4 linked regions of the Homo sapiens genome follow. The protein of the gene in region 2 purifies or fractionates together with the protein of the main gene of each other region. This does not show direct contact. Each region holds a gene or a part of one and is shown on either strand. Other genes may lie near its edges. The genes, in order: KIAA0232, FOXD4L6, HSPBAP1 and LRP1B.

Region 1 (7,649 bases), on a different chromosome or scaffold from region 2:
CAGGCAGTCTTAGAAGCCTACTGAGCCAGAGACTGACAAGATCTGAGCTCAGGAAAGATGACTCTGGCAGCCAGGCAAAGAATGGATAGGAAGGGGTGGCGAGGAGCCTGAAGACAAAGTTAAAAACTTTAAGCAAAGCAAGTAATCTGAGGTTTTAACACTTACACTAGGCGAGTATTTTTAAAGGGTTTGAGTCTTGACGACATTTCACGTCTTCCCTCAAGTGATCATCCCAACTATTCTGTGAAACAGGTGTCATCAATCTTCCCATTCTACAGATGAGGAAATTAGCTCACAAGCCATTAACTGCCAAGTCAAATGCTACAAAAACAAGGACAAAGCGCAGGCTCAGCACTTTTCCACACAATGAAAAATAAAGAACAAGAACAATCTAATTTCTTTTGAAGAGTGCTACCGTACAACATAGCACAGAGTAGGCTAGCTACATTACCCTATATTACCACTGGAAGTGTTAAAAATCCATCTAATCAGCCAGGCGCGGTGGCTCACGCCTGTAATCCCAGCACTTTGGGAGGCTGAGGCAGGCGGATCACGAGGTCAGGAGAGAAAGACCATCCTGGCTAACACGGTGAAGCCCCATCTCTACTAAAAATGCAAAAAATTAGCCGGGGGTGGTGGCATGCACCTGTAGTCCCAGCTACTCGGGAGGTTGAGGCAGGAGACTCGCTTGTACCCGGCGGGCGGAGGTTGCAGTGAGTGAGCCGAGATCGCGGACTCCAGCCTGGGCGGCAGAGCGAGACTCCGTCTCAAAAAAAAAAAAAAAAAAAATTCATCTGATCTTCTTAAATGTTTGCAACTTGCATAACAAGCTAATTATCCTTAGATTTGACTTCTGTTAACGTCATGTTAAAGACCTATACTTTTTCTCCAAAGCAAACAAAAAAGCACCTGCACTTTGAATTCTACTTCCTATGGAAATAAATAAGAATAATATTCTCCCTTCCCTTCAATGTTTAAAAACTGGCATTTCACTGATGTAACGGGCTTACATAAAAACCATTATACCCAAGGAAGCTGTAAACCACTTTTTGAATGATTAAAAATGCATTATTTAGCAAGTACAGCAATTGAATCTGAGTTATAAGATATATTAAGTGAAAGGAGCTTCTATAGATATGCAAAGGCACACTCTCGGAAATAGGTTCTGTCATAAGGAAGCGACATAGAGATCCTGAGACCTATTTAAGAATGGTTCAATCCAAAATAACTGATGGAAGAATATTTGACCTTGAGGATGCAGAGTGATAGAATCCGCTCCTCCTCCCCCCCCGCCCTCACCCGCCTTTAAATTCTAAGTCCACGAAATGGTCAAAGTGTTCTGGAACGGGTCTTATTTTGCATAGGAAGAATCTAGCTTGGGCATTTTACCGCACAGTTTTATCCACAGCATCGCCTATTACCAAAACTGCTTGTCCCTACCCCCTCACGAGCTTTCTAACAGTTTTTAAAACAAGACCCAGAAATGTAAAATCCCTTCTTAGGAACTTGAACAGTAAGTCAAAGTATCCAACCCAGGTAATTATTAGCAAGAACTACATTTATATAATTTTTTCCAAAGAATCTCGCATGCCTCCTCTCCGCTGAATCTCCCTCCTGTTTTTAACTGGGTTAAATCTTTATAGCTTGCCTATAGAGGACAAAAACGGAAAGGTGGCAAAAAAGAAATCAAGACAGTTCTGCCATGATTTAGGGGTCTGTACCAAGAGTTCGGCAGGTCCTGTCACCTGCGCACCACAAGACGCAAGCTGAATTCTAGGGCAAGACGAAGCATTCCAACACGACACACACTGGTTTCTCCAGCGGGAAGAAGCAGAGAGCTCTAGAAATGCCGGCTGCAGACGCGTATTGTTGGAAAGGAGCCGGATCAGGCCCCGCAGCAACTCGGGGCGCCCTCGCGACAGGGTTTGCCGCGCAGCGCACGGATGACTGTGGGCCTGTCACTCCTAGCTCCAGCTGTAACCTTCGCCAAACCTTGCGCCGCACCGGCCCCGCCCGCCAGGCCCGCCCCCCGCGCCGCGCCCCGCGCCATAGGCCGGCGCGCCAGTCGCTCAGCCGGCCTCCCGGCCCCGCCCGCCTGCGGCCCTCCTCCCCCGCCCGGCGGTTTTCCCTTCCCGGGGCCCCAAAAGGACAATGCTGGAGGGGAGGGGAACGGAGGGAACGCGAGCGAGCGGCCCAGGCTGCCGGCCTGACCCCGCTGCCGGGGACGCCGGGCGCCTCCCACCGGCCGAAGCCTTCCTCCCGCGCCCACTTTCGGGGCTCTACGTCCTATCAAGTCTAAGCACCCCCGCCTCGTCTCCCCTAGAAGAGCCGCCCCGGCGCGGCGACACCTGCCCCAGGCAGGAGGCAGCCAACGGCAACCCATTGTGCGGACTCATCGTCCACAGCCCACCCGGGCGCAAGAGCCGCAAGCTGGTGTCCCGGCGTCCTGGGGTCGGGGCGGGGGTCCCAGGGCCCACAGCTCACCCGCACGCCCGGGCACCACCAGGATCGGGGCCGGTCAGGCCTCCCTCGGCTGGCCCCGGAGCCATCAACAGCGGCCCGGTCTCCCTTAGGCTGGCCCCGGAGCCATCAGCGGCGGCCCGGCCTCCCTCAGGCTGGCCCCGGAGCCCCCGGCGGCGGCCCGGTCTCCCTCAGGCTGGCCCCGGAGCCCTCGGCGGCGGCTCGGCCTCCCTTAGGCTGGCCCCAGAGCCCACGGCGGCGGCCCTGTCTCCCTTGGGCTGACCCCGAAGCCTTCGGCTGCGGCCCGGCCTCCCTCGGGCTGGCCCCGGAGCCCCACGGCGGCGAGCGTCCGGCCTCCCCGGCCCGCGCCCACCCGGCCGAGGGGCTGCTCCGCGCCCTCCCTCCCCGCCGCCTGCCCGCAGTACCTGCCGAGGCTGCCGGGCGGCGCGGCGGCCGGCGGGGGCGCCTCTCCTCTGGCTCCGAGGGGCTGCGGGCGGCTGCCGAGCGCCGGGCGGCCCTGGCCTGCGCCTTACGTAAAGCGGCGGCGGCGGCCCCAGCGCCACTCCGCGGAGGGCGGGAGGCGGCGCGCCGGGAGCCGCTCCGCTCCGTTACCCGGCAACTGGCCTCAGCGCCCCGCCAACCAGGGGCGCGCTCCATATCCTTCCGCCCGGGTGCCGGGATTACATCAGCGCCGGCCGGTCCCCGCCCCTGCCCCTCCCTCCGGCTGGGCTGCGGGCGCGCGCGGGCGGTGGGCCGCGGGCTGACGGCGCGAGGGGACAGGCCGGGGCTGGTGCCTGGCGGGTGGGGGTCTAGGGCCCGGGACGCGCCGTGCAGCTTGGCCGGGGCGGCGGAAGCCGCTGGGAGGTGAGAGGGCAAGCAGTAGAGAGGGCAGGCAGGAAGCGGGAGCCCCCCAGCGTGCTGGGCGTCGGAGAGGAGACGTCTCCCGCGGAGGGGCACGTGGGACTGCCCTCGGCAGAAGCCCCCGAACTCTGCCGCCGCGCCCCGCCCCCGGCCCGCGCTGGGGAAGTGGGGCTCGGCGTGCACGGCCCCGCCCGCGGCCCGGTGCAGCCCCCGCCTTCCCGGGCTCGCGCGCCACCTGTCCGCGCCCCCTCCTCGCCGCGTCCTGGGATGGCTGGAGTAGGCGGCTTAAAATAAAGACTTTAATTTTTTGTTGTTGTTGTTAAGGAACCCAGAAGACAAGCTAAAGAAATGTGACATGGCTCTTTTTTTATTAACTAGGCAAAAATAAATTCTGGAAGCTTCGAAAGTGGAAACCAAAAATGTGCATTAACCTTTTAATCAAAGTGTCTTCACAGCCACCTACCTTCCCTAAATGTGACTCCTAGGCCTGTTCTAAAAAAGCAAATAAGTATCATGGACCTGGAAAAGGAAGGGAGATTACTTAGAAGAAAGAGGTCCAATGGGAGGAGTGACTTACCTGGGGTCATTTGTTCATTTATGCAGCACCCACTAGGTGCCAGGCACTATGCTTTTCTGTTCAGAACCTGTTGGAGAATTTCCTGCACCAGCTCACGGGCTTGTGGGAGAAGCAGATGCTGAAACACTGGAGAGGGGTCATCTGCTGAGTTGGCTAGATGCTCCATGCATCCATGGAAGGACAAACCGAGGAACTGTCGCTTACGTACTATCTACAGAGTGTTTTTTCTGCGAACATATCTTTTTGTTCTTTACAAAAATCGTGGGACAAATCTTTGTCATCCGCATTTAACTGGTGAGGAAGCTGAGGCTGAAAGAAAGTGATTTCACCCAAGCCTGGCTGCTACCGAGTGGACAGGGCCTTCTGACCTTGCTAAACCACCTCTTGCAGGAGACAGAATGTGAACCCAGGCTCCTGGCTCTGAAATATGGGGTTTCGTTTCCTTTACACTACTGTCTCCCTTAACCAGTTTGCTTCTAATTGTATTCTCTGAGCATTCGCTCAGGTGAATGTATATCGTCATAAATCACACGTTCATTCAGTCAGTTTCTTCTGAGTGCTTGTTGTGGACCTGGCTCAGTGCCGGGAACGCACAGTCCCTGTGCTCCTGGAACTCAAACTCTAAAAACAGTGTCGAGAATGGAAAGGGTATGGGAAATCCAGGGCCACTTGGGAGTAGAGGAGGGGAGAGTAGCAGAGCTTCAGAGCCTAGTTCACAGGTGCCTCCAGGCTCCAGGATTTCACAGACCAAAGTATGGGGGATTTGCAAAGGATGGTCAGCTTTTGATTTTTGCTACATTGGTGACATATCTGTCATCTACATCATATTTTACAAAAGAGTATTAACAGCAAAATTTTTTGAAAAGTAATAACAGTATATCTCAGTTCTGAAGAAAGGAAACACGGTTGGCACCTGTATAGTGACACACACACACACACACACACACACAGAGTTTATTGACCTTTTTTTTTATTACTTTGCCACAGACCAGTTTTTATACTAGTTCTACCATGAACTAGTAGAACCTGAAGACTTCTTGGAAGAAGAGGTTTTTAAGTAGGAATTATCTTGTATTAATAGGATTTGGAGCTGGTGGGGAAAGATGACAGATTAGGGAAAGAAAGTGTCTTGTTTACTTTGTTTTCTTAACAAAATAGCCTCCTGTCCTCCAAATTATTTTGATAAAAATCCTAGGAGTCTCAGCTGACTCCAACCTTAGGGCCTTTGCATCTGCTGATTTCTGTGAGGAACTCCCTCCCCAGACCTCTGCGTGGCTGGTTCCTTCTTGTTAAAGGCCCTGCTACGATGTCACCTGCCCAGAGACATCTAGATGCCCAGTTTGGAGTAGCCAACCTTCCCAGTCATGATGCCACTGCTATATTTTGTTTCTTTATTCACAGCTCTTATCAGTATCTGAGATCATCTCGTTTGTATGTTTGTTTCCTCATTCATCTCAGCCTCCTCACTCAAGACCTGTATCTCACAAGAGCAGGCATTTTGCCTGTGGTGCTTATTTTCATATGCCCAGAGCCCAGCACGGAGCCTGCCAGTTTGTAGGTGCAGGACTGAACTATCATCTGTGATGTAGTCAGAGTGCACATCAGGGAGAAAACAATCCCACCTTCCCTTGAGCAATCAGGAACAGGGCTCTTCTGCATGAGCCCCTTACCCCCTGTAGTGTGCCACGCTGCCTACGACCTTCCTTCAGGCTCCCGGGTAGAGATCAGCCAACTTAAACTCAGGAGAACAGTAGCTTTCTCCCTCTTGTGGGCTAAGATCCCTAGGGAATGCAAATGAGGCCAGAGGACTCCTGCGTTAAGGCAGGGTTGGTGTGGAGGCGGTAGACTCCCCCTTCAGCATTTTCTGAGAAGAAACCATTGTCTCCTGTGTATGTCTGAGATCATTCATTTCATTTCTCTAGTCTCAGGAGCACCTGCCACAGCTTTTTAACCCCTACAGCCGGGTAAGGCAATGCTGGAGGAAGCTGACGACTCTGAGTGCCCTCTGACTTGGATGTTCGATGCTAGCGAGGATTCTAGCAGCTGCCATCTGGGGCAGTGATTGTGTAATGTGTATGCTTAGTGAACAGCAGGGATGAGGCTGGGTCCGGGATGCTTTGTGATGTCGTGTGGCACACGGACTGACGGCAGGCAGGGGCCAGGCCTCTTCGACTCTGTGATCTTGGGTACATAATCTCCCTCTCTGGGCCTCAGTTTCCCCATCTGCACAACAAGGGACTTGGGCAGGAAGATTTCAAAAATCTCCTTTGTTCTGTGCCTGTGTGTGTGTGTGTGTGTGTGAGAGAGAGAGATTTAGAAACAAAATTTCAATGAAGCTACACTTTGATAAATGATATACAAATCCTCACCTGTCACCTGACACGAGCAATGCCAGCTCCTGTTTACTGACCCCCAGGTGCATGCCAAGTGCTTTGCTCACATTGTCCTTAACTCCCACAATACCAGGCAGGGAAGAGATGATCCCCATTTTGCAGCCACAGAAGCCAAGGCTTCTCTGGAGACTTAGGTGGCTTGCACAGGCCACACTGCTACTAAAAGGCAGCACCAGGATTTCATTTTAGCCCTGTGCTTGCTACTGGGCCACACAGTATCATTAAAATCCATCCTGAGATGACTTTTAAATGAATGAGGCCAAGATAAAACCCTGACCAGATAATCTCCCCATTGCCTCCCCATGGGACCAAGACCCTCACTTGGGATACTAACTAGGCATCTCAGTTCAGATGCTGTCAGTCAAGGTGGCCCACATCATGGCCTTCTCTCTTAACCACCCCAGGCCTGCACCCGCATTCTGACAGCCTCTCCTCTCAGTGGCTCTCCTCTCTTAGGGGTAGTAACATCATTCCAGGCCTAAAGAGAGTTCAAGCCTCTGGCATAGCCCCATGGTCTGACCTTGAGCAAGGCCCTGACCTTCTGAGGGTTTCGGCTTCCTAGTGCAGGAAAAGACAGAGGAATAACGCCTTGTTCCGCTTGCCTATCCCTGTAGGGCCAAACCAGATCAGAGGTGTGGTTGTCTCCTGCTTCCAAATTTGTTCCTCACTTCTATCCCTCCACCCAGTCCATGGAAAATCAACAACGTCATCAGCAATGTCACCAGAAGTAGGGGAGCACGGTGATTAAGCACACTGGCTGATTAGCTCACTGATGTGGGTAAATTACTTAGCCTCTCAGTTTCCTCATCTGTAAAGTGGGCATAATAATAATAGTATCTGCCTCAGAGGGTTGCGGTGAAGGGGTAAGTGAATCCACACAGAGGGTACCCGGCACACAGCAAACACTCAATAAATACCAGCACCCACGACCATCCCTCCTTGAAGCCCCCACTACTTAGCTCTGACTGCCCATCTCCAGGACCCCCTCTTCCTCTGTCCCTCCCATTCCCTCCTTTCTTATCCCTCCTTTCTTATACCTCCTTTCTTATCATTCTGCATACCACTAGGGCAGTCTCCTCCACTCCAGTAGCTGTTAAGTAACATGAAAATGGAAGGACACCTAATATCTCTCCCCTACCCCAGCTTTTCTCCAAGGCCCAGAACCGCCTCCTGGGCTTGTCCGCCTTGCTGGTGGGACCCTCCCCAGCCCCCAGCATGTTCCTGGCTGACTCACTGCCTTTCCACACAGGGGCCCCTTCCCTCATCGCTCTATTTACAGCATCACCCTCTCCCTGGCTGCCTGAGCTAGAGTCCTAGTGCACCGACCTGGTGAATTTGTTTCAGAGATGACCTTGCAG
Region 2 (7,198 bases):
GAGCAATTCATGATGGGCGTTCTTGTCTGGTTTCCCCCCACTCCGTCCCCTGACGCCGAGTAACACTTAAACCTTTCTAGTTGCAAAGTCTTTTCAGAGTTGTTTTTTTTTTAAGAAATAAGTTTTGAAAATTCTAGTGCTTAAAATATATATATATATATATAATTTATAGCCTTTTATTTTCTCTGAGTACATGTTGGCCACTACATTCCAAATTGATCTCAAATGGTTTTCCAGCTTGTTGAGGGGTGATGAAAAATAAATGGAGAATATATTTACATGCCCTCCTATTCTTTTCTTTTAGAAGTCTCATAAATAGTAAATTTCCTATTTTAAAAGCCAGGACATTTTCAACCTCAAATATTTGGAATTTTTAAAGGCCATATTAAAATGGATTACTTCTGCTATCTATAATAAATATGAATTGTGAAAATAAATTGTTTGAGGGAAAGTAACGTAGGTTTTAAAAAGTTCCATTTAGAAAGGGAAGAATGAGATGTAATAGAAAATAAACGATGTAGTGTAGTGACTTAGCATTTTATTTCGTCTATATAACTAGGCTTAATTTTAACACCTTAATTTTAACATTAAAGATGGCACGTCAGACACACAGATAAGAAATCAATGTTCTGAAATTAATATCCTACTTACATTAAACATCCCTATCAGGAAGACACAGAGAGTAGAAGCATTTTGCACTAGACTTAGGAATAATACTTCCAGCTCCAAGGAAGTGAAGAAGGGGGAACATGTTTGGCATCGGAGGCTGTGTTTTTGTTTGCTTGCTTGTTTTTCTTTTAATGCCAGAACAAAATACCCCACTCACGTTCATAGTACCCCAGGAAATGCGCAAATCGGGACAGCCATAGAAGCCACAACCGAAGGCAAGAAAAGATGACTTGACGCCCTGCGAAGGTTACGTTCAGGTGGTTTTTAGAGGAACGTAATCCAGCTGTTTCTTTCTAACCATTTTGCAGCGAACAGAAGTTCGTGTTTGCTCTCCAGCGGGATTCAGATGCACACGCCCTGAATGGGCCGCGCAAGGTGAAGTGAGCAGCTGCGGGTCGCTCCCCACTCCCACCTGGCTCTAGGAGGGCCCTGCGGAGTTGGCCAGGGAACTGGGCGTGGGCGATACTAAAAAAACTGGTGAGGTCCCCTCTCCGCCCAAAGGGGCAGCCAGCGATGTCAGCCTAGAGCCCTCTGCCACTGCCTGATACCTCAGCAGGGCCGACGAGGCCGACAGGTGCCCGCCCAGCACCGCGCCCTTGGTGGGAGCGCAGCCGTTGGCGCAGTCCTCCTCCTGATGCTGCTGCTATTGCTGCAAAATTGTCCGAGCAGCGGCGGCGGCGGACACTTGCAGCAAAGGGGCAGCGGTCTGGGGATGCAACAGGCTTGATGGTCGCTGGAGCAGGTGGCAGTAGCTCCACGCGGTCGGGGACAAACTCTGCGCAGCCCCTGTACCCGCTCCCCTGACCCCTTGCATAATACTCTCAATGCTGAAAGAGATGCATCCGCCTCCCGGTGGCGACGCCAGACCCTTGCCCTCCTCCCAAGGCTGAGGACCAAGTGAGGGCTGCAGCACGGGAAGGGTGCCGGGGTCGCCAGGGCCGCGCCTTCTGCTTTCTTCGGTGCCCCGGCATAGACGGGGGCCGAGAGCAGTAGGTAGCGAAGAGGATGCGGGTGCAGCAGAGCGTAAGGGCGTCTCCCGGGGGCGGTGTTGGGGTAGGCCCCCGGGACTGGCTGCGGCGGGGCAGGGGCCCCAAGCAGAGGGCCTGGGTGGGGGTTGTGCAGGGCGGCGTGTGCAGCAGGTAGAGGGAAGGGGTGGGGCAGGTGGGCTCCCGGGGTCAGTTGGTGGCGCTTGAAACGCTTCCTACGCCGGAGAAAGCTGCCATTGTCGAACATGTCTTGGGAGGCGGGGTCCAGGCTCCAGTAGTTGCCCTTGCCTGGGTGGCCCGGCTCGCGGGGGATCTTAACGAAGCAGTCGTTCAGCGAGAGGTTGTGGCGGATGCTGTTCTGCCAGGCGGGGAACTTGCGGCGGTAGTAGGGGAAGCGGCCACTAATGAAGGCGCAGATGCCGCTGAGCGTGAGGCGCTTGTGCGGGTTTTGCAGGATGGCCATGGTGATGAGCGCGATGTACGAGTAGGGGGGCTTTGCCGGCTGCCGGGCATCTTCAGAGGCCGCCGCAGACCTTGGCGGTGCCCTGAACTTGGTGCCAAACTCTGAGGGGTCGCTCGGGCCGCCGCCGCCCTCGATGTGCTCTCGGGGAAGCGCAACCCCGCCCCACCGGGCCACCTGCAGCCCCGGCTGGAGCGACTGCTCTAGGAACTGCTGGCTCGCCGCCTCCTCCTCGTCTTCCACCTCGTCTTCATCTTCCTCCTCTCCCAGGACATCGATTTTACCGTCTTCCCCATCGGAGTCCCGGAGGCTGCGCTGCGGTGTGGAGCGAAGGCGCTCAGCTCTTGGCAGGTTCATGGAGGAGCAGGTGCTTCAGTCGCAGGGGATGTGGCGACCGATCACCTAGCCTGGGGCGGGCTGAGCTGGAAGCCTGGGATGAATGTTGCAAGAAGCAGGAACGCTAGTGGTTACCCTTTGGGATGTTTTCGTCTGCTTGTTTCTACTCCTTTGCAACAACGTCCGGCAAAGATGCCTTTGCCTTTTATAAAAGCTTCTTCAAGACCATGTGTGGTGGACTCCCCCCTTTATAACCCTTCTTCCCCTACCTCGGAGCGGTGCCACTTCCTCCTAACGTAGTCCAGGGATGATGGTCTTCTGGGCAAACACCCGTCCGGAGAAAAGCCCAGCCCCCTCCTCCTCGCACCCACCTGCCACCAAGGAAGATGCTCTACTCATCCGGTGCAGCCAGACAGTTGGCAAGCCTTTGCACGGGTTCTGTTAAGGCGCATTTAAACCCGCGCAAATAAAAGCGAGGTAGGAAAGTATGATACTCAACATTCTATGACCACCTCAACATGCAGCCTTCCCGCCTGGAGAAAAGAAATGGTGGGGCAGGAGGCTGAAATGTACACGGTTGTTTGTAAAGGAATGTGTAACCGTAAAAGTATGTTTTTGTGTTTCACAGCTGGTAATCACCCATTTTCATTGGTAGAGTCTGCCCTTACCCAGAATGGTGAGCTGAATTATATTTAAGGTTCTGACAATATTCCCAGGCTTCAGGGGGGTGTTGCTTTGCTCCTTCTACCTTCCTTCCCACCTCCTCAAGATGCTCTCCCTGACTCAAATTTTCAGAAAAGGCTCAAATGTCCCAGCACTAAATTGTGTAAGTTTACTCAGGGAAGGCAGGAGAGCTCACACGGAGTCCTCTGTCCCCTTGTAGCAATGGTTCTCCAATTTCTTTGAATATTTAACCACAGAAATACATTTTATATCACAATCTCACACATACAGACATAATACATAACTAAGATGGGTTTCACGAAACAATATACTTACACTATAGTGATCACTGATATTTCCTTTTAAAAAAAAATGGCCATAACCAACTAAATTGATTTCACACATACCAGTATGGGCCCAGTTTGAAAAATCCTGTTCTTACAAAGTGGCCCCACATACAAGAAATGCACCCACTCTATAAGGGCTTCTCTCTCTCCCTTTCCTCCTTCCTTTCTTCATCCTTTATAACCAATTCATTTTTAGAGACAGGGTCTATGTTGCGCAGGCTGGCTTTGAATTCCTGGGCTCAAGTGATCCTCCCGCCTCAGCCTCCTGAGTAGGTGGGACTACAGGCGTGCCACTATGCCTGGCTCTGGCTCTTCATTCTTTTTTTTTTTTTTCTTTTTTTTTTTTTGAGACGGAGTCGCTCTGTCGCCCAGGCTGGAGTGCAGTGGGGCGATCTCAGCTCACTGCAAGCTCCGCCTCCTGGGTTCACGCCATTCTCCTGCCTCAGCCTCCCAAGTAGATGGGACTACAGGCGCTCGCCACCACGCCTGGCTAATATTTTTAGTAGAGACGGGGTTTCACCGTGTTAGCCAGGATGGTCTCGATGTCCTGACCTCATGATCCGCTTGCCTCAGCCTCCTAAAGTGCTGGGATTACCGGCGTGAGCCGCCATGCCCAGCCTCTTCATTCTTTCAGAAATGTCAACATTAAGTGCTTTTACTGTAATAAAACTTGGGACTTCAATGAGGCAAGAAGGGGCTGCAGTGTTGCCTTTAAATCAGTGGGTCCTCATTCACTATCTGCACTGGGGAGGGGCAATATGACAGCACAACTGTTCATCTCACTCCCTCCACATCCTTAGAAGTAACACGATTTTTAGATTGGCTTCATGAAAATTAGCTCAGAGACTAAAGTAGCACTACAGAGGAATAAAAAAAATTTGTTATATAAATAAGAATCTTATTAAAATACTAAGTAAGATACTATGCCACGGTATATATTCATAATTTAAAACCCACCTACTTGGGAAAACTTTGAGGTGCCATCTAATAAAAATGCAGCATGAAAGAATATTATGCCCTTGATAGTCACATAGTGTCTATAATTATGACAATGAATGTTCAGTGAGAAATCAAACGCCAACTGCAAGGGCAAAATATAATAAAAAATAGCTTAAAGTAGCTAGTGCCTTCAGGATAAAATCTGGAAAAGAGCTTTCTTGCTGATCTTTTTTTGAAACTTTGCTGCTCCTGAAGTTTTTACCCTTTAAGGCTCCTCAGTTTATATGAAGCTTGGAGGACAAATAACAGACAGGTTTGAGCCTAACAGATTTGTTTGAATCCCAAATTTACCAATGACTGCTTGTGTGACCTACTAAACTAAGCTCCAGGAGGGCCAGGCCAGGTGTCTTATTCAACCACATAATCCCAGACGCCTCCTCCCCAGCGCCCCCCAGCATGTGAGGCAAATTTCCTCCATCAGCATAGGAATCGGATGACCTGGGAAAGGGAGTATTAGTTTTCCTAGAGCCAGCTTCAATAGGGATTGGGGTTATTTAAAAATACAGGAGAAAAATAAGGAGGCGCTCAAAAACAAAACACAAAACCCACACTGATGGGGGTATGTCAAAGGGGGGAACAGGAGATAACGGAAAGAGTTCCCAATGGTCAAAGCTGGGATAATTTGAGCAACAAAATAAAGTAGTATTAAATTGTAACCCAAAGTATAAAATATTCATGTGTCCACACTGATAAACATAAATGATCGAACTAATAAAGCGAAAGGGACAACTGTCCCTTGCAGAAGAATTTCAATTAATTATGTAGACCACTCCCAAGAAAGTACACTACAACTCCCCATTCCTTTAGTGTGGGCTGTGCATAGTGATTTCCTTCCAAAGAGCACAGTATGAAATGGGGGAGAAGAGTAACTTTACAATGCAGAAACCTGACAAACACTCCTTCAGCCAGGTGATCAGGTCGTCAACATCAACATCAATAACAGTCATAACCTTTTATTTCATGTCATAAAATGGTGACACTTACTTGTGTTAAAAAAATTTAATAACAATGTAATCATTATATCTCTGCAATCAGCTGAAGTTCTAAGAAAAAATGACAATGTTGAAAGTTGTATCATCATTATTATAAACTTTCATGTTCAGTATATGTAAACTCCAAAGCCAATTTCAAAAGATATTTTTGTGAAATACCATTCTTTAAAAAAAAGGATATTGTATATAATTGTATGAATGTTAAATGTTTTACAGTACTGATTTGCTACATTTTATGTATGCTGTAAAACAAATACCATTTTAAAGTATATTGGAATTCGTAACTAAAGTAATAAATAAATGCTTGAAATATACCCAGTAGAAACTTATTTTTATTATCCAATCCTTTTGATAAGAAATGCCTCTAGTGTTATGTACAAACTTGATCTTCTTTGAAATGTGTTGTCCACTGCTTTTCTGTTTCTGTCACAGTAGCTATAAACAGCTGTTTAAGGATATCCTTATCTAAATTTCTGCCTGCAAACAAAACAAAATATGACGTGATTACATTATGCTTATTAAAATGACACAGTTCACCTATCAATTCCAGTTCATTAAATGCTTTATGGTGTTTAAAAATTTACAAAAAGAATAGTAATTGAGTGATTCCATCTTTAACTTTCCAGGTCAGTACATCAAAGTCACATTGGTCCTTGGATTAACCACTTTTCTAAAATTGAAGAAGAACAAAAGTCCTAACAAGCTTTTACGAACATTGTAACGTGACAAAGATGAAACATTGACCACAAGCTTATTTAGTTTTAAAAGAGGACCTGAATGGTTAATCTGTTTAAGTGGCACATGATATCCCTTTCAAATATATTTTTCACTTTGTTTCAAAACTGTGAATCCTTTGAGACTTACCAATGAGGACCAATCGATTTGTTCTCTCAGTGTCATCCTTCCAGCTCACTGGAGTCTCCTCCAGATCACAGAGCTCATGGACACCCTGGACAATCACTTGTTGTGATTTGTCTTTGATTGACACCAATCCCTGCTCAAAGGAGAATTGACTGAACATTAATCAGCCTCAGTTCAAACTTAAAAGCAGAAATAGAGCATCAATGTTAATGGATTAATTACTGATATTCACTTAAAAAATACAAACTCTTAAGCTGAGAAAATTACTTAATTCCAATTATTTGTGAATTACAAGAAGTTTCTTAATGTTTTTAATTTTCAAAAAAGGTTTCTGTGTATTGATTTTTTTTTTGAACAATCCCCTTTTCTAATGATAAAGTTAATACATATATTAGGATGGTTTTTCAGTGTTATTTATCACAACCAAAACCTGAAACAAAATGATGAAATATGTATCATATCCTATTGATTAAAGATTTTATATAATGTTTCACAGTTTTAGTGGGAAAAGTTGAGAAGTTAAAGGAGTTTGGTTATATTAAATAATTTGTTTTAGAAATGGGTTGCAATCAATGAACAATGTTGAAATAAAGAAAAACTATTATATTTATCTGGATATGAGCTCAATTTATCTGAATATGAGCTCATTGTGTATTGATTTGCAGAAATGAGAAACGAATTATCTGATAAACTGGCTCCTATGGGGATGAAATTAATTTATTTGAAATAATATTCTTAATTTACCAAAAACTTTGTGCACACTTGTGAACACACAAGAGTAGACACTCAACTGACTGGTTAAGCATACACTTTAGAATCACTGCTTCCTAGAAGAAATACCTTTCATGACTTAAATACCCAAATATCAAGTAATGTGAGTGGGTT
Region 3 (7,091 bases), on a different chromosome or scaffold from region 2:
AAATAAAAAATAAACCAAAAATTTTAAAAATGAACTTTTCTATGACTCCCATTGTATTCATCATTGTACTGAACATACTGACCCTTTCACTTGACTTTATTTAATGTATTTATTTTTCTCATTCTCTTACATAACATCTCTAATTTCTTTTCTTTCAGTTTCAACATCAGTTACTAAGGCTGGCACTTTCTATTAATAATAAAAATGGTCACGATTCTTGAATATCCAATTCCTGCCAGATACTATGCTAGATAATCTACACATATTAACTCTAATCTTCACAATAATCATGCATTTTACAGAGGAGGAAACTGAGGCTCAAAGGGATTAAGTACCTTGTCCTCCAGTCTTTCTCCCTCCAATCGGTCTTCTACCCTTCAGCCAAAGTGATCTTCCTACAACCAAATCTAATCATGTTATTTCCCTCACCTAAAGCTCTTTAAGGCTTCCTACTGTCTTAATGTCTAGATTCCTTAACTAGGCCTAAGGTAACCTTCAGGATACCTCTTTTCTTACCACTCCTGACACCAACTTCTTTCAGTTCTTGGACCATGCCATGCTTTCTCCTTTTGCCTCTGGACTTGGCATGGAGTGCCCTTATTCATCCACTCAACAAACATGTGGCATGTGCCAACTATGTGCCTGGCATTGTACTAGCAGCTGGGCACATGGTAGAGAATGAAACAGACATAGGTCCTGCCCTCAAGGTACTTATGATCTAATGGAAAAAACAAATAATAAATAATTACAGATTGTAGTAAGTAAAATGACAGAAGCAGGATGCTGTATTCCAGAACATCTAGGGTTGGGGGGTGCAAGAGAAATCACAGTGACTGTTTTAAATAGTTTGATCTGGTAAGGTCTCAGGTGGTGACATACTTTAAAAGCTAAAGATTAAGCCAGCTATGTGAAAAGCCAAAGGGGAGGTGAGTGACAAGAGATCCTGCTAAAGACATCAGCAGAGCCCAGACCAAGGATTATTACAGGCCACGGTTAAGAATCTGGGTTTTATTCTAACTTCTAAGGGCAATGTAATTCGCTGAAGAATTTTACATAAGGAAGAGTCACTTTTTGCTGCAGAGTGGAGAAGGGATTAGAGGGGCACAGAATAGAAAACAGAGACACAAGTCAGTCAGGAAGATACAGTAGTAGTTGAGGTGAGAAAATGTGGATGATTTGAAGTACGGTCTGATAGTGAAAGGAAAAAAGTAGACAGATTAGATGCAGAATTGACCTGACTTGCAAAGTCATTACCTGAAATTAAGAAAGAGGCAGAGAGAGGTTATAGAGTTTGGGAATTTGTCATTGGAGAACGTTAGCAGGCTCACTAGAGAAACAGAGGATCAGAGGGATCTCAAGCCCATACTGACTGAATATTCAAGAGTTTGGCCATTTTCACTTTATACGGTCATCAGTTTGTGCAGGACTTTTTCCAGCAAAGTTCAGGCCCACGGGTGCAGGTACAAAGAGGGCAAAAGGTTGACTTCATCCAGAGTAAGAGTTTTGTCAGAAAAAAGTGCAGGAAGGGACAAGAGAATTTTTCAAAGGAACGACATACATTCTGGATAAGGGGGTGCAGTGGATAGAAAATGGAAAGATCAATGCAATGGAGGTATAGATGAAGGTCAAGAATTGTCTCCCTGGTAGAAAGTGGTCAGATAGTAGGAGGCTATAATTTGTTTCTTCTGCTTGGAATGGGCATCTCCCCCTTCAGCAAACTGTTTGACCCCTAAATACATCCATCCTTTTCTGCTCCCTGACTTCCTGAACCCCAGCACCACTCCCTGAGTTTGTCACCATCTCATCCAATCAGAAAGGCCCACCTCAGCGGATCACAAGGTCAAGAGAGCGAGACCATCCTGGCCAACATGGTGAAACCCCGTCTCTACTAAAAATACAAAAATTAGCTGGGCGTGGTGGCACGCTTGTAGTCCCAGCTGCTTGGGACGCTGAGGCAGAAGAATTGCTTGAACCTGGGAGGTGGAGGTTGCAGTGAGCCAAAATCGCGCCACTGCACTCCAGCCTGGTGACAGAGCGAGACTCCGTCTCAAAAAAAGAAAAAAAAAAAAAGAGAGAAAAGAAAAAGAAAGGCCGACCTCAAACTATTCGCTCCTTGAAGCATTTATGTTCTCCCCACTGAGATCCCTCCTCCTAACAACCCTCACAGAGTGTACTACTGGTAGAATAGTTCAGGTGACCACATAGTAAGTCATTCTTTTTCCTTTCTAGGCTCCTTTGGAAAAGGTATTGTTATAAATATTCAAAAGTCTCTGGATCCTGCGACAGTATTCAGAACACAGCCCTGCACGGTGCAATCATTCAATAAATAATAACAGGGATCTCAGGCTCATGGGCCTCCAAACCTCATCCCCACTTGCTAAACCAGGGTTCACTGAAATAGAATAAAAGCGCATAATCCCTGTTCACAAAAGTCTCAGATAACTTCCATTAATCTCAAAGGTTGCCTTCAATTTCACAAATTTAATTTTAATCCCCTCTAAACGTTCAAAACACCTCTATTTAGCTAATGATGGGCAAATATAAAACAAAACAAAACAAAAATAACACCCCATGCGTGAAACAGCACTCGTAGGCTACCCTACGACGATCAAAAATCTGGATGCCACAATTCGAGAAATGCCACGCTCACTAGAAAATATAGATTTTTCTTCATAGTCTAATGCAAGGCCAGAGAGACCTGGGTTGGGGCTAAGGCAAACGGCCCCACGAGGGGTGCCACGAGAGTCAACTGGCATTGGGTTTGTACTCAGGGTCGGACCTCAGCCTGGCACCTACCTTCCTCCCCTCCAGCCCCAGCCGCAACGATCACAGGAGTGGTCGCCTCGGAGCCTGCTGCCATGGCTACCGCAAGGCGGGTTCTGCCGGAACCCAAGGCGGAGCGGAGCTGGGGTGGGGTCAGAGTAGGGGCCAAACTCCGAGACCCGAAGCTGCACCACAGGAAGGAGCCCCGGCGACTCCCGCCCGGCTCCTACGGAAACGCCGGCTCTCACGTGGAGGTCACGTGACGGATGCTGGGCGGGACCACGCAGCTTTGTTTTGATACCCCGGGTGTGGAAATACAAACACGTGGTCTGAGTTGTGGCGCTTTTTACCTAACCCGGACCTTAGCGTTCTTTATTGTAGTCTTAGCTTCGTTTCTGTTTCTCCTTTTCTAGTCAGATCCTTCCTTTCCACCTCGGCTTTTCTCCACCCTAAAGGATTGGAGTTTTAGGGGAAGGTTTGCCGCTTAGTGGGGCTCCGGCGGTGGGATGGGTCTCTGCCGTGAGCTTTCGCGAGCCGCTCTTGGCAGCCTGGAATGCGAGGCTAGCTCACGCTTCTCTTACACCTCTCTTGCCCTTCTGGTGGTAACCTGACTCCTTCTGATTTTAGTGGCTGCCGGGAAATACGAACCTCGGGCAAAGAATCCTGTGATTGCGTTCCCTGTGACTCATTTCCCGATCCAGACAAGCCAAATTGCTTGACTTTAGGTTTTCAAGGACACTAATCCACAGCTGTCAGGCTTCTGAATTTGTATACCAAAATAAACAAACAGCTGTGTGAAGAGATCAACAACCACCTTTCTTCTCGTTTACCCTGTGGTCAAATCATAATCACTGGAGATGGATCTTTGGGGCAAAAATCTTCCAACTTTACTGGACATACCTTTATTGCTCGCCTATTGGCAGGCGAAATGGGTAAAGTTTACATATATATGAATGAAATTGGCTAGTTTGGAATCTCCTCTTTGGATATGTAAGACAAAAAAGTAACAAAAATAGGTAGTACTTATTGCACGTAAGAAATGATTTTTATGAGATAATCCCCTGGGACCAACTACGCTTAAACTTTATCCTTCGCCTATAATTTCTGAAGTTACTAACTCAACAAAAATGAGAATAAGCCCAAAATAGAAGCAAGCATCAGGTTAACTGACGTCACTTAACAGGTCACTGAGTTGTTTATTAGGCACAAGATTTAACTTGGACACTTCCTCCAAACACCCCAGGGTTCCTTGCCCAACCTCCTCGAATACAGCCTCTCTGGGAGTTTCCCTCTCCCCGACTCAGCCGCGCTGGTCCCTGCCTTTTCAGCGCTACCTGCCCTCCGTCTGGGACCTGGCTCCTTTCCTCTCGCCGGTGTTTCCTCGCCACCCGCGGAGGGGAGGGCGGACCCCAGCCTCCTTGCCGCCTGCCCCGCCTCCCCGCCTCCCCGCCGGCCCGGCTCGGGCCGCGCAGGCGCACCAGGCGCGGTCCGGAGGCCGAGGGCGACCACAGCAGCCTCCGCCTCCTGCTGCTCAGGACTATTCTGCGCTGGGCTAGTCGGCGGTGACCCGGACTGCGCCCGGCAGTGGCTTCGCGGGCGACGCGTCGCCATGGGCTCTCGCTGGAGCAGCGAAGAGGAGAGGCAGCCGCTGCTGGGGCCCGGGCTCGGGCCTGGGCTGGGGGCCTCCTGGAGAAGCCGGGAGGCGGCGGCGGCGGCGCTGCCCGCGGCGGTCCCGGGTCCCGGGCGGGTATACGGGCGCCGCTGGCTGGTGCTGCTGCTCTTCTCGCTGCTGGCGTTCGTTCAGGGCCTGGTCTGGAACACCTGGGGTCCCATCCAGAACTCGGCGCGCCAGGCCTACGGCTTCTCCAGCTGGGACATCGCGCTGCTCGTGCTGTGGGGGCCCATCGGCTTCCTGCCCTGCTTCGCGTTCATGTGGCTCCTGGACAAGAGAGGTGAGGGGTCGCGGAGCGCCAGCCCGCGCTGTCTCTCCTCCGGGAGCAGGCGCCTGCCCGCGCTCCAGGCCTGCCAGCCGCCTCCCTTGGCCCCGGCATAGGGGTTGTGTGAGGTGATAGAGTGTTGCTAGCATTCCATTTCTGACTTAGGAACCCTCCGTCCCCAAAGCGACAAATATGGAAAGGCAACCTTGCAAATATTTATGTTTTTTATCAAGGCCCTTTATGCAACACCAGGGATTTAAGCGATCTCTAAACGTTCAAGTTTTTACACATTGTGAACATCAGAGCATCCCCGTGCACGTGCGGTGTATGTGTTTTACACCTGACAAAAATGACTGATGCTTTGACTTCAAAGGGATATGGGGATGTTGAGGATGAAAGGTCGGAAAATAGATTGACGGTGCCCATATGTAAGGAAATAATGAGTTCGTTTTGTGTAATAGATGACTCCAGCCCAGGAAGAGCTATTGGGAAACTCAGATCTGACACTTTGGTTTCTGGAAGGTGGTGCTCGGCAGCTTTAAAATGTGTGTATGTGACTAGATGGCTTTCTCAGTTGAGATTTGTGACTTTCAATTAAAGCTTGCAGATGAGTGAAGATGCTTGCTTAGAATGGTACCCTGGACATCTCACTTTACCACTTGCCAGTGTGATTCTCTGAGAAGAAAAAGCCATAGGGCTGAGAATCAAGGCATACTTACCACATAAGTATGGATAAATGATTAGTAGTGACAGTCTACCCTCAAGAGGCTGTTGTGCAAGATTTTATATTTATTAATTGAATAATGCCTGGGAGCTACTTTGTACAGTTTCTGTTCAACCTTTTATAAGTTTTGTTGCAATGAGTTCTTTAGTCAGATTTGGAAGGTTGTCTTAGTCCACTGGAGCTGCTATAACAAAATACCATAAACTGGGTAGTTCATAAACACAGAAATTTATTTCTCACAGTTCTGGAGGCTGGGAAGTCCAAGATGAAGGCTCAGGCAGAATCGGTGTCGGGTGAGGGCCTGCTTCCTACACAGTGGTCTCTTCACTATAACATAAGATGGAAGAAGGGGTTAGGGAATCCCTCTGAGGTCTGTTTTATACGGGCAGTAATCCTATTCACATGGGTTCCACCCTCATAACCTAATCACCTTCCAAAGGCTGCACCTTCTTATTCCATCATTTTGAGGGTTAAGATTTCAAAATGTGAATTTGAGGCCTGGCGCAGTGGCTCAAGTAATCCCAGCACGTTGGGAGGCTGGGGTGGGAGGATTGCTTGAGCTCAGGAGGTCGAAGCTGGAGTGAGCTGTGATGGCACCACTGCACTCTGCCCTGGTCAACAGGGCAAGACTCGTCTCAGAAAAATTAATACATAAACAAAATATGAATTTGAGGGGAACACATTCAGACCTCAGCAAAAGTCAAGTGTAGGTAGGTATAGAATTGCAATTGTCTGGCATGTAGTTAGCACTCAAAATTAGTTGGTTATTAAGAGAATAGAATAGCAGGGTGATGTTAGTAGTTATACTTCCTTCTCTCCTCCTTCACTGGAATTCCTTCATTGGAATCCATGTGAAAAAGACTAAGGAATAGTTGATTGTGAATTCCTTAATGATCAACAATATAATGTAGCTGCTAAAAAAGAAAGGACAGTTTAGGCATAGAAACATAGTGTCCAAAACAAGAAGCAAAATAGTTTGATAGGCTCTACATTAGTGTTTAGTTCTGAGCTTGATTCTGAGAAGGCCATTTGACAAACTGCAGAACTTTAAAGGTTCTGCGACAAGAATGATAAAGGGTATAAAAATCATGATGTGTAAAATGAAGGGAACTTGTGTGTATCACACTTCAAAAAGAAACTTGAGGCAAGATATAGACTATGTGAAGATCAAGTCAAAGAGGAATTCGACTTATGTGTTGTTCTAGGAGGAAGAACTAGACTGAGTCAAGTTACAAAGAAATGTAACTCAAAGCAATACAAGGAAGAACCTTCTAACAAAGATACCCAGCCCTGAATGGGTGTGTCTTGACTGCTGTAGAACTTCCAGCTAGAGCAAATACTTTTGCAGAGGATGTGTGCTAGATGCCGAAGAAGGGCTTCTCCTACCAAAGGGAGATTTTCTTTGGGTTATTGTTGTTTGCTTTTAAACTAAATATTGATTTTCTCTGGGTTTCTGCTGGGCTCAGTGGCTCATGTTTGTAATCTCAGCACTTTGGGAGGCTGAGGCGGGTGGGTCACTTGAGCCCAGGAGTTAGAGACCAGCCTGGGCAACATGGTGAAACTCCAAATCTACAAAAAATACAAAAATTAGCCAGACATGTTGGCATGCGCCTGTAGTCTTAGTTACTGGGGAGGCTGAGGCTGGAGGATCAGTTGAGCCCAGGAAG
Region 4 (7,025 bases), on a different chromosome or scaffold from region 2:
TAATTTATTATCTGATTAGAATATTAACCCTTTCCCCCAAAGATTATCTTTTGCGGCTTTATTTCATGCCTATCCTCCCTAATACATAGAATGGTGCTGCATTCGTTCTTATAGAAAATCTTTCTAAACTAAAAATGCAAATCTCTGTTGTAGCTTGTCGTTATTGCCACTACTACTCCCTCATTCAAGCCATCAACATCTTTTCCAGGATGAATTTGATAATCCCTGAACTGGATTCATCATTTCCCTTCTTGTCCTTCTTTTCAGACCAAGCATGATCTCTTTAAAAAGTAAGTTGCATCATTTTCACCTCTGATTAGACAGCCAGTAGCTGCTCAAAATCAGAACCAAACCCAAATGCCTCAATTTGATCTGCATGACCCTACCTGACCTAATCTGACTTCACTGTAAATATGGCTTTCTCTACTTCTGTTCTCTCCCAAACACACACAGTTTATTTCAGACAAAGTGACCTGCTTTCTTTAAAATACCAAAATCACAACTTCCTCTCAAGGGTTGCATAGAAAATTCCTCCCTCTAGATGACTCAGAGCTTGTCCCCTCTCGTCACTTAGTTTTACCAAATATGTCACTTACTCAACAAGGCCTTCTGCGATTATAACTACGACTCCCAATTGCATTGTCCTCAGTCACATTACATTATTTTTCTTTCTTTTTAGCAAGGATGTTATTTATTTATTTGTTTGCTGTTTCTGTCTCCTCTTGCACTAAAGCCCTATCAGCCCAGTTACATTGTCTACCTTGTTCACTTGCTTCATTCCAACCACGTAAAATAGTGATTACCACTTATTTGCTCATCTTTGTCAAATGAGTGAATAAACACATGAGTGATCACCAACTATATGAGTTGCTTCAAGGATCATGTGATTCAGCAAGAAAAAAAAAATTTGAATGAAAAGCGAAGGTATGCTGAAAATGTAAAGAGCTTCTTGCTATTAGTAACTCATATTAAGCAATTAATATAATTAATAAAATAATAGGTATTTATGTAATGCAATACATGATACGATGTGTTTTCACAGACATTACACTCTGTGCACTCACAGAACGTTAGGGTCATAGCTATGTTTATCTTCTCAGAATGGGTCGGAGCAATTTTCTGTAAAACTCTGGTGGTGTTTTCATAGACACCCAGATGAAAATACACACAAGGTAAAACCCTCATGCCCTTCATTACTTTATGTTCTCCTAGCAATGAGAATAGCAAAGGAAGTCAAAATGTGCTAAGATGTTGGTTCTTTCACTGTCAAGATTAATTTCTAAATATTTGACAAGATCACTAGCAAGTGAAAATAGGAAGAAAACGTGCTAGGAGAAGGAACTGTAGAATTGAGTGTAATACAACAACGGACAAAGAAGAAGGTTTAAGTTCTGAATATCTGATATATTTAGTATATCTAAATTCAACATTTAGATTTAGATATTCTAAATGTTGATCATGTTGGATAGTCATCAAATTTTCTTGCAAATAAGATTAGTGTGCTGTTGTATTACAGGACATCAATATAGTGCTCCTGAACTGCTAGTCTTTGTGTTAGAAATGACATCAATACAAGGGCGCTCAGCAAGAGTGCCTGAATTCTGAGTTAGTAATTCCATCTACAAATCTGATGTAGTTATTATGCTTAATGAAAATCTCAAAAATATGGATGCCCAGTGGGCACAATCTGTAGTGCTTTCACCTGATGAGGCAAGAATCTCACTCACGAGGTGGTGTCATTATCACTGTACTTCCAGATCTTAGTCATGAAAAAAATGCCTTAAAAGTTAATAGAGTTGGATAAAGTGGAATATTTCAATAAAGCACACTTGCTATTCTAACATTTTTGTCCCAATAAAAATATACCATTAAAAGCTTTGGAAATGCACAAAATGTCTTAGATAATCTAAAAACTGAATCATTTTTAAATCTCTATAATATCTATTTTAGCAAAAGTTTAAGGTTCTAATTAGCTCAGCTACTTGATCTGAGCAGTAGTGGACAGAAGCTTCAATAAATTCTGACTATCAAAGTTCTCTTTCTTGGCATTGTTTTTCTTCCTTTCCTTACACATCCTAGTTTCAAAAGAAAACAGATGATTCTAAACACATTTCGGTTATCAGCATTACACCTACAGCTTTTCTTTCTCACAAATATCTTAAGATATGCTAGGAACACACAAAGCAACCATAACTAAGTTTCATTTCTCCCCAAAACTCATTGTTAGTTATCTTTTCTCATTTTAAGAAGAAAGGGCTAAGATGACAAATCGTCATTAAAGAAAAACTCAGCGGTAGAAAAATTCTTAAGGAATTATATATTCGTATTTCTAAAGTTAAGCAGTCTTGGAAATCTTGAAGGATGTCAATGCAATGTGGAAAAGTTAGGAAGGGATGTCCTATTGATTGCAAGAATAAAACAAGAGACGATAGGTGGTACCTTGATCTTACCTAAAGAAGAAACATATTCTTTTGACTAAAATGAGGTCATGTTTCAACAATACCTGTCTTTGGTCTGAAGGCTAAGCCAGTCAGGACAATGAGGTGTATGCAACTCAGGAAGAGATGTCTGACTGTTAATAAGAATGTATTGTGAGATGAAATGTAATGTCGGTATCTTAGCAAGGCAACATGATCTATCTTCTTCAAGAAGTTTTTTTTTTTTTTTGGTTATTTTTCTCTTAACAAAGTTGGAAGAAATTGTATATGAAAAGGTACTTTCTCAACTTCTGTAAAGGATATAGTTATAATATTATTCATGTTTAAATGGAAACTTTTAAATACACAAGCTTATATCTGAGAAACTTTTATATACGAGCTTATATTTGAGAAAAATAAGATTAAACAAATGGATCTGTGGTACAAATGTATTAATCAAAATTAATTTTCTTTCTTTTCTAAAGGTAAAGACACCTTTGAAAAGCGTTACGTATTTACAACTATTCTGCAATATTTAAGAAGAAATCCCAAATGTAGACAATACATCATTATTAAACAAATATGAGTAGAGTTATTGAACAACAGAAAAACATGTTTTTTTTAATTTTAATTTTAGATTTGGGGGTACATGTGAAGGTTTGTTACATAGGTAAACATGTGTAACAAGGGTTTGTTGATCATATTATCTTACCACCCAGGTGTTAAGCCCAGTGCCCAATAGTTATCCTTTCTGCTCCTCTTCTTCCTCCCACCCTCCCCCTTGAGTAGACCCCAATCATGTTGAGACATGATTATTTCCAAAATGAACATTACTCTTTTCCACTAAGGATACTTACAAATTTGAAGTAATAGGGAATAAGATCAACAAATGGGTATACTCATTTATTTATTCATGCCATTGCATTTTTAAAAATCATAATTGGGTACCTAATTGTAGACTAAAACTAAGTTAATGTGACTGCATATGAAAATTATTATAGTCATATTTAAAAGAGCATTTAATCCTGTTGTCCAATTTATGAATGATTTCCACTATATATATTCTTTATTGAGAGAAAATCTTTGAAATCACATTTTGGAATATATTTAAGTTTTTTTTAATGTTTCACAAAATGGAGAAATACAAATTCAGTTAAAAAGTAAAGACAAAAAGAAAAATAATAAATTTCCACTTTCAATATAGTAAATTCTCTTTGAGTACAAATGAATTCAGAATACTTATTTATTTTCTAATAGTGTTTTAAACTTGTATAATACCCCATTATATAAATATGTAGTTACTACCAAAAATATTTCATTTGCCTAGTATGAGAGACACAACAGCAAAAGCACATATGATTTGCTCTGCAAACTAGAAATATGTTGCATAATTCTTTCAGGGAAATATGTTGTTGTTATTGTTTCTTCATAGAATCTCAATTTAGGCTTTTCCTGCAAGACCAGTCTTACTTTTTTTTTTTACAGGATGTATGGCTATTATTTAATAGTTTTGATTTCCATTTAGTTACTAGTCAGTTTCATCAATTGGTTTAGTCAGGGAGCTCAGTCAAAATATGTGGGCTTGTATAGAGATAGCCTAAATAGAAAGGATGGAGAGAAAGAGAGATGGAGAGAGTGAGACTGACTCTACATTTTAATATCACTCAATTTAGAACAGAGCAATACATAATACATACTTTCTAACTTGGCCTTGTAATTATGCCAGGGGAAAAAGGGAGGCCATCTGATCATTTATGAAGAGGAAAATATAGATTTAAAATTGTGAGGGCAGATTATAGAAGACAAACAGAAAAAAAACAGCATATACATTTGGAAGATGTAAGCTTACTTGTTGTGCTGAATGGCAGAATCTCCTGAATCCTTCATTCTCCTTTCTCTAAAATAGAGGGTTCATATGTACTTGGTGAGATTGACATGTTATTCAAATGAGAGAGGACTGAAGAGCCAGAACAGAGATTCAATACTATTGCAAGTATAATACTTTTCAAAATTGAGTGAGTGAGGTAAAGACACTCATTCTGTGCCAGTGGAACTCACATATGGAAATTAGTCCAAAAACCAACTTTTAAAAACTCAAATTATTTTTAGAGATATTTTCATTTTTTGTCTTATTTACTGTTTAAATAATATTTTATCCCAAAAAACTAATAAGTTTTAAAAATCTCCATCCAAAATAAAATAACTGGAGAATGTTCCCAAGGCCTATAGACTATACAATTTGTGATTGCTCTGTTGCAATTTCATTTCTATGTCTCTAGACAATGGTTTGTGACACAGGTTAAATTTGGGAATAGCTATCCATGTGAAAATGTATAGCAACTCCACAGAAGAAAATAAAAAGCATCCCTTGACATTTTTCTGTTTGATTAGCTAATTTTCCCTACTCTCCCCCCTCCTCTGCCAAAACCAAAAGAAAAACCTTCTTATTTGACCTTTCTATGCATCAAGATAGTTTTGGTCATTATTCTTGGATTATATGGGGGAAGCCAGGTTTCTTGAAGAAATTTAAGAAAAGTTTTAAAACTATCTAAGGTAGACATAGATATTTTCTCATAGGAGTTTGGCTGAGCATATATTCTGATTAATTCATAATGGAACTCAGTCTTTGGCTTTATTTTCTTTAGCATTCTGCTACTAAATGTATTGCTTCAAATTATAAGCATTGGGTATACCATAATTATATTCATTTCAAAAGCAGATAATTTTGACACGTGTTTCTGCCACACAGTCAGATTCTGTTAAAACAAAATACTTGTTATATCGAAATGTATTAGAATATTATATGCTATGAGTCAAAAAATAACTTAAAATTTTTTTCATTTCACTTTTTTTTTTGTCCAGATAAATAGACATGTTTATCTGGAGTTTTCAAAAGCAAAAGTTTCATTCATAAAAACCATCACCAATTTTCAAGCCAGAGTGGTATTTTTAATGGCGTTTGTGCCAAGGAAAGCCATTTTAAAGCAGATATACAGACACACATAAACACACACAGAGAGAGATTAAAAACGGGGTTGGGGGCAATTGTATAGTTGGGTTCCACTTACTACTAACTTAGTTTGACGAATGATATCATGTTGGCACAGGCATGTTTAACTTTTAGGATTAATTCTACTTTCTTTGAATGCATCTATCTAGAATGAAGACAAGTGTTTCCTTTGTACAAGAATTGTTTTGACAGACAGCCACAGAAGATAGAGAAATCTATCAGTATGTTTGATTGGTACTTTTTACTACACAGAATTCCTATAACCAGGAAAATGCTGAAGGAAAGGGAGGGAGAGTTGCACATTTCACATTAAGATACAAAAATTAATGGCAGAAACATAAAAAACTGGATCCATATATAGAATGGAGAAAAGACATAAAGTTCCCTCAACATCATAATCCTTGTAGAAGACCAAGTCCTGTTCAGTTCAGGTGACTTTAAATGGAGCTGATTTTTATGGTATCCCCTGGGCTGAGAAAAGAAATTGACAAGGTAACTGGCAAGAAACTAATGTCCTGGATCCAATAGATTTGCAAACTAAGTATTTCTGCATACCTCCACCTTGAAAAACAAGCAGCATTTAGAAAGTGTCATCTAAGTCCTAAGAATACATTAACCATATCACTCATCTAGCACCCTTTCTAAGAAAATTTCCTTTACCTTCACTTACATTTTTAAAAAATCACTTCCATATTTGTAATTCTAGCACAGTTAATATTTAATTTTTCTGCAATATTCTCATGTCTCTCTCCATTCTTAGAGGTCTAATTATATTCAGATTCACACTGGTGGCACTTTCCTTAAATTATTTTTATACTGTAAATATTTTCATATAATGTTTTTAATAATGAGATAAAAACATTTTAAGAAATTATTTTGTCTAAAGATATTTTAACCTATTCAAGAAATACTGATTCAGATTCTGATGTATGGCAGAATCCATCCATCCATCCATCCATCCATCCATCCATCCATTCATCTTTTTCCTAAATTTATCTTCAGCTTTCTCTTAACTCCATTTTTCCTCCTGAATTCTGTTTTCTGCAATTCACATTCTTTCTTATTGTTTTAGCACATTTAAATTCTTTCTTTACCTTTTCCATTTTCTCTTTTCTCTCTCACTCAGTTTAAATTTGAGCTTGAGAAGAGAGAAAGAGAACAAATTCAAAGATTAGCAACCTCTTCAAAACAAAACTTTAATGTTATTTGTGGCATATGAAGAGACATAAATCGCAGTTCATTCTTCTTTGAGGGGAGATTAAAATTTTGATATACATTTAATTGCCATTGTTTGATGGTTTTCTATACAGATACATTAAAATGACTATAACAGCATGAACTTTAATTATTTGGAAATGTGTCTCCACATTGTATCATACTCGAGAATTTAACACAGACTAGCATTAGGCCTCTCAATCCCTTTTCAGAAAATTTGACACTTTAAGATATACTTCCTTTTAAGTTTTAATCCTTATCAAGCAATACTTTGATATGATATGACATTGTTATATGACAAATTAGTTGATTCTAAGTGAATCTGATTTATCTTCCAATTTTGGCTGTTAAGAGTTACAAAGATGTTTCCTTTTTAAGATGTG

What was found.
Region 1: the proteins of FOXD4L6 (region 2) and KIAA0232 purify together in Homo sapiens (affinity purification with mass spectrometry; 3 studies listed by BioGRID and IntAct, with this or other methods). This does not show direct contact.
Region 3: the proteins of FOXD4L6 (region 2) and HSPBAP1 purify together in Homo sapiens (affinity purification with mass spectrometry; 3 studies listed by BioGRID and IntAct, with this or other methods). This does not show direct contact.
Region 4: the proteins of FOXD4L6 (region 2) and LRP1B purify together in Homo sapiens (affinity purification with mass spectrometry; 3 studies listed by BioGRID and IntAct, with this or other methods). This does not show direct contact.

Annotation. Positions count from the first base shown.
Region 1 is NC_000004.12:6,778,078-6,785,726, reverse strand, and holds the start of KIAA0232 (uncharacterized protein KIAA0232), read right to left. Parts: upstream 3,001-7,649; 5' UTR 2,886-3,000; intron 1,952-2,885; exon of another isoform or gene 166-1,951; intron 1-165.
Region 2 is NC_000009.12:41,125,912-41,133,109, forward strand, and holds FOXD4L6 (forkhead box protein D4-like 6), read right to left. Parts: upstream 2,771-7,198; 5' UTR 2,473-2,770; coding exon 1,219-2,472; 3' UTR 524-1,218; downstream 1-523. Other genes in the region: ZNG1F (zinc-regulated GTPase metalloprotein activator 1F), read right to left, coding at 5,823-5,929, 6,317-6,446.
Region 3 is NC_000003.12:122,790,821-122,797,911, forward strand, and holds the start of HSPBAP1 (HSPB1-associated protein 1), read right to left. Parts: upstream 3,012-7,091; 5' UTR 2,861-3,011; coding exon 2,797-2,860; exon of another isoform or gene 1-2,796. Other genes in the region: SLC49A4 (solute carrier family 49 member 4), read left to right, coding at 4,373-4,715. UniProt on the Homo sapiens protein: May play a role in cellular stress response.
Region 4 is NC_000002.12:142,121,004-142,128,028, forward strand, and holds part of LRP1B (low-density lipoprotein receptor-related protein 1B precursor), read right to left. Parts: intron 1-7,025. UniProt on the Homo sapiens protein: Potential cell surface proteins that bind and internalize ligands in the process of receptor-mediated endocytosis.